Linked DNA regions of Homo sapiens. The protein of the gene in region 1 purifies or fractionates together with the protein of each later gene. This does not show direct contact. Each region holds a gene or a part of one and is shown on either strand. Other genes may lie near its edges.

Region 1 (3,500 bases):
CGGAGGAGTTGGGATTACAGGCACCCACCACCACACCTGGCTAATTTTTTTGTATTTTTAGTAGAAACAGGGTTTTGCCATGTTGACCAGACTGGTCTCAAACTCCTGACCTCAGGTGATCCGCCCACCTCGGCCTCCCAAAGTGCTGGAATTACAGGCATGAGCCACTGCGCCCGGCCTTTTCTTTTTATTTAAAAAAAAAATTATTTTTTGAGACAAAGTCTTGTTCTGTCACCCAGGCTGGAATGCAGTGGCCCAATCTCGGCTCACTGCAAACTTTGCCTCCCAGGTTCAAGCAATTCTCCTGCCTCAGCCTCCCACATAGCTGGGATTACAGCCGCACGCCACCACATTGAGCTATTTTGTATTTTTAGTACAGACGCAGTTTCACCATGTTGGCCAGGCTGGTCTTGAACTGATGACCTCAAGTGACCCAAAACTCCTGACCTCAACCTCCCAAAGTGTTGAGATTACAGGTGTGAGCCACCGCACCCAGCCAAAAAAATATTTTTAGAGACAGGGTCTCACTCTGTCTCCCAAGCTGGATGGAGTGCAGTAGCACCATCACAGCTCACTGTAGCCTCAAACTTCTTTCTGGGCTCCAAGCGATCCTCCACCCTCAGCCTCCAGAGTAGTTAGGACTACAGGCACACACCAGGGGCTCTTTTTAAATGGCTGTGAGAAGAACTGGGGATAGAGACAGCAGCTAGGTGAAGTGAGAATTGGGGATCCTGACCCTTGGAAGTAGGTTTGGAGCAGATCGAGGCCATGGGCAGGGCCTTGGAGAGGAAAGATGAGGCTCAAAGTGCAGTGTAGGGAGAAGGTCAAAGTATTAGGGGACTATATTTGCTCCCATGACAGATTTTCCCAGCTTCATCCCATACCCGATATTCCATTTCCTGTCGCTGCTTCAGCTCCTGACTAAGGCAGTGGTCTTGTCTCCCTGAGGTCCAATCCTCATGTCCCTGCTAAGGAATCTCTTGGCAGAGACTCCGGCTGGAGAGCAAGAGGAAGTGATGGTGGAGACACTGGGACATTGAGAGGGAACAGGGCTGCCGCCAAGCCCAAACTGTGGCTGAGACAAGAATGCCTTTCAAGCAGGCAGTGAGCACCTCCTGCTTTGTGGTGCCAGCTGGTACCCCTTTGAGAGGGCTGTAAGAGCCCAAAGTCGTCATGCCCTTCCAAGGCAAGGAATGGGGTAACTAAGATACTGGCCCACAGCCACACTGCTTCATGCCTCAGTGTCCCCTAACATGTAGTCCTTCTAGCACTGTGAATGAAGGAAGACATGGATGTAGTATATGGGAGTCTTTTAGAAATGCAAGGGTATCTTCTAGCCAGGCGCGGTGGCTCACGCCTGTAATCCCAGCACTTTGGGAAGCTAAGGTGGGTGGATCACTAGATCAGGAGTTCAAAACCAGCCTGGCCAAGATGGTGAAACCCCATCTCTACTAAAAATATAAAAAAATTATCTGGGTGTGGTGGCAGGCGCCTGTAATCCCAGCTATTCGGGAGGCTGAGGCAGAGAATTGCTTGAACCTGGGAGGTGGAGGTTGCAGTGAGCCAAGAAGGTGCCACTGCACTCCAGCCTAGGCTACAGAGCAAGACTCCATCTCAAAAAAAAAAAAAAAAAAGAAAGGCAAAGGTATCTTCTTAATGCCCACCATGCTGCTGCTACCAGGCCAAACCACTCTCAAGATCTTTACCTCTCAGGAACTCATGGTTCCTGATGGTGCCTCTCCCTGGGTGAGGCATCCAAGGAGGAAATGCCCTATAGCATCCCTGGCTGGCATAGACGGTCATTCATTGCTGGGAATCCCACCAAAAAAGATGCCCTCAAAATCTACCCCTATACAGTTATATGGGTATGAAAGGGCTAGAAGAACAGTTTTGAGGATTGGGTTCTTCATAAACTCATATGGGCCTGATCCTTTCCCAGTAAGGCTGAGAAAAGAACTCAAGAATCCAGAGTTCTCACACCTGTCTGGTAGCTCTTAGCATGTAGTATGTGTACGATGCCAATCCGAGAGGTGGGCCTGGGGCCCTGGGGTTGCCATGAGGCATGTGTGCAGTCCCCACTTCTGCGCTACACCCCAAGTGCAAACCTGCTGCTCTTCCTGCACAGTTGCCTCTCTCTAAGGTCCCGTTGACTCCCAAACTGAGCCACCAAAAGTTTTCTCCAGTCTAACCACAGTGAACACTCACGGTTCCCCCAGTCAGGGTTTCCCGGGAACCCCTGATCTTCCAAGCAGCGGGTGAGCTATGGCAGGGTAGCTGATGGGGAGGAGTCAAATCCTAGCAGAAAGAAGAGGTAGAAACATGGAGTTCAAAGCAGAGAGGCAGATACCCAGAGATATGGGGCACAAAGGACCTGCATAGGGTAAGGGATTGACAAAAAAGACCCATAGCAATGGGGGAAGGAGGACCTGAGAGGAAAAATTGGCATTGAATAGCAGAAATAGCTATAATTCCAGCACTTTGGGAGGCCAAGTGGGGGAGGGTTGCTTGAGGCCAGCAGTTTGAGACCAGCCTGGGCAACATAGTGAAACCCCATTTCTATAACAGATTTTAAAATTAGCTGGGCTTGGTGGTGCATGCCTGTAGTCCTAGCTCCTCAGGAGGCTGAGATGGGAAGCTCACTTGAGCTAAGTAGTTAGAGGCTGCAGTGAGCTATGATTGTGCCACTGCACTGCAGCCTGGGCAACACAGCAAGACCCTGTCTCAAAAACAACAGCAACAACAAAAAAGAAGCAGAAATAGGCAGGGACCTAAAAGACCAGAAAGGTAAAAAGACACAAACTAAGAAGGAGAGATGATGGAAAAGAGACTGGGCTAGAAAAGCAAAGGAAAGCAGAGAAGAAAAGAAAGGAGTGGAAAAAAGAAAAGGGGGAGGAGGAGGAAGAAGGCGGCCTTCCTACCTAAGAGAAAACCACCATGGTGCTGGGCCCCAGAAAACCCCCAGACCAGGCCACTCCTCCCTTCTTCTCCCCCCTGACCGCCCCCTCTCCCTCTGCCCAGCCCGGCTCCGATGGTTTCCCTGCGGTCGGTTTATTTTTAAAAACGCCGACGCCGTCCCCCGCCCGGCCCTCACACTGCGGCCACAGGGGCCTCAGCCAAGCCCAGGGACCCCACCCAGCTGTGGGGAGGGAAGGAGGGGTGAAAGAAGGCAGCCAGCCCCAGGCCAACAGGAGACCCCAGCCCTGGGGAGTGGAGGCCCAGAGGGCCCTCGAGGGCAGGGAATGGGGAGCGAGGAACCAGACCCACTCAGAATGCTCTGGGGGCTACAGGCTGAGCACGTGGCTAAGTTTCACCACAGCCTCAGTTTCCTTCTCTTGCTGATTGTTCTCTCCTGAGAACTTGGGGAAAGAGCACTGGTTAAGAGTTCTAAACATGTGTCCCCATACCTGATCAAATGTGTTCCCTTTCCAGGGCCCAGCAGTCCCACCTTCGAGTTGTTCCCTCCCGACCTCCACCCCACCACCCTTAAAACAAAACAAAAC
Region 2 (2,278 bases), on another chromosome or scaffold:
TTGCATTTACACGAAGGGAAGTCTGGATTGGCCCCCTCAGGCTGATTCCTGTACTACCCTGGGTGTGTCTTCAGGGAGATGAAAGGAAAACCTTTGTTTGCTTAATTTTTCCATGTAAGTCTTTGTAATTTCCCTGTAATCCTGACCTGCCCCTACCCTCCACTGACTTTCCTCTCCTGATGAGGTCACAGAGAAGTGTATTTAAATAATCTAGGGAGGACTTTGTGCAGACAGACCTTGTCTAAGAGGGAGAACATGTTGAAAGGCTTATGTGATCAGATTTAAATTTCCATTGAGAGTAATTGAGCGATTTGTCAGTGGGCTGTTTGGACTAAATCAGATATAAAATAGAGCTGTTAACCCATAGAAGATGTTGAACTGTTAAGTCGACAGAGGTTTGTCATAAACTTGTCCACTGGTAAAATGCTTGCCCGTTTATTTCTCTGGGTTTCCTAGGGACCCAAATACAATAGAGACGCTCCAGTCTTTTGGGAAGGCTGTCGACTGGGCTAAGTCTGGAAAATTCACACAGCAAGACATCGACGAAGCCAAACTTTCTGTCTTCTCAACCGTAGATGCTCCTGTCGCTCCTTCAGACAAAGGTATTTTGAGTATAACAGTGAGAATCTCAACCCACAGCCTCACAGATGACGTTGCTGTTTTCCAAGTTCCCGGCATGCATGGGCAGGAGCACTAGCTTCTGGTGCCTCCATCCTTGCTTGTGATACGATTTCCACGTCTGACACCCTAAACACGCTTCCTGACATCCGGGCGAGAAGAGTGCATCCTGTCATTTGTTTTACTGACCTGAGACCCAGTGGGGCCAACCCATGGCAGTGTCCGGGCTCTTTAGGGTGGAAGGAGGACGTGGGCACGGCCCGGGCATGGCCACGTTACTCTCTGGAGCCGCTTTTGCTCACAGCATCATCAGCCTCACGCGGCGCTGACTGCATCCCTGCTGCAGAAGCAGGCGTGGGTAGGGGTCAGCGTGGCACGTGGGAGCTGGAGGTCGGGGTGTGATCTCTGGGTTGTTAGACACATCCCTGTGGTTGAAACATGCACGTGAAATGACAGTGAGATGCCTGTGTCCCCTCCGGGACATGAGTGCACAGCCCACAACGCGAGCTCCCGGGCAGCGGCTCCATCGTGCCTGTGGATTGTCTTCTAGGAATGGACCACTTCTTGTACGGCCTCTCGGATGAGATGAAGCAGGCCCACAGAGAGCAGCTCTTTGCTGTCAGCCACGACAAGCTCCTGGCCGTGAGCGATAGGTGAGTGGGGAGCGGGGGAGACAGCGTCTGGGACTGGAAGCCCTCGTGCTGACTCTAACAGCGCTCACGCAGAAGCCAGTCCTTGCTGACCACGCCTGCCTTCCTCTCAGATACCTCGGCACTGGGAAGAGCACACACGGCCTGGCCATCCTCGGACCCGAGAACCCGAAAATTGCCAAGGACCCATCCTGGATCATCCAATGAGCAGCCGTGGCGCTCGACTGCACAGGAGCCCGAGACAATACACCTCCGAGCTGAATATGAAAAGTCAGAAATGCTACTGCTTTTTCCAAGAATATTATGTCATTGAGTGTCGCCAAAGCCCTTGACTGGCGAGTCAAAAACTCAGATCTATCTTAAGAGTGACCAGGAAGAGGTTCATTGAAATAATCATGCATGAAGCGCCAAAGATGCACCATGTAGAATTTTCACTTTGTACTGGCAGGCTCGTTTTACCTCATTCTAGAATATTTAAGAATCTAAAAATAAAGGGCAACTCTGACTTAACCTCTGCTTGAGTCATTATTTTAAGCAGCATTTAGGGCCTTTATTTAAAAACAGAAGTAAAATGAAAAGGTGCACAAGGGTGTCCCACGTCTGCCTGCGCTGATTCAGGAAACTCCATCACACCGAGGCCCTGGGGGAGTGTCCACCAGACGGGAGTTCACCGCGGCGGCTGCATGGAAACCGTCCTGAGAAGCAAGTGGGTTGGGGTGAGTAAGCGCTTGCTTCATCGTTACAGAGCCAGAAAGGAAAGCCTCCGCGCTAGCTCTTTCTTGGCTGTCGGACTCTGATTTCCCAAACAGAGTTTGTTTTTGGCCTCTCCTCTCCCTCCACCCAGCTCTCTGCCCCCATTTCTGAGGCGCAGCTGTTCTCTCTTGCAGACTAGAGCTAAGAGGCAGAAACGCTGTCCCTACAGGAGGGGGGCCCACCAGGGCAGCAGGGCTGTCATCCCAGCAGCCGTGTCTACTCTGGCAGGAGTCTTCCGGAGAGTTCCAACCTAGGTC

What was found. Proteins that work in one complex are often made in the same cells at the same time.
Region 2: the proteins of SP7 (region 1) and PITRM1 purify together in Homo sapiens (affinity purification with mass spectrometry; one large-scale study listed by BioGRID and IntAct). This does not show direct contact.

Annotation. Positions count from the first base shown.
Region 1 is NC_000012.12:53,329,855-53,333,354, forward strand, and holds part of SP7 (transcription factor Sp7), read right to left. Parts: intron 1-3,500. UniProt on the Homo sapiens protein: Transcriptional activator essential for osteoblast differentiation. Binds to SP1 and EKLF consensus sequences and to other G/C-rich sequences.
Region 2 is NC_000010.11:3,137,228-3,139,505, reverse strand, and holds the end of PITRM1 (presequence protease, mitochondrial isoform 2 precursor), read left to right. Parts: intron 1-456; coding exon 457-602; intron 603-1,168; coding exon 1,169-1,271; intron 1,272-1,381; coding exon 1,382-1,475; 3' UTR 1,476-1,778; downstream 1,779-2,278. UniProt on the Homo sapiens protein: Metalloendopeptidase of the mitochondrial matrix that functions in peptide cleavage and degradation rather than in protein processing. Has an ATP-independent activity. Specifically cleaves peptides in the range of 5 to 65 residues.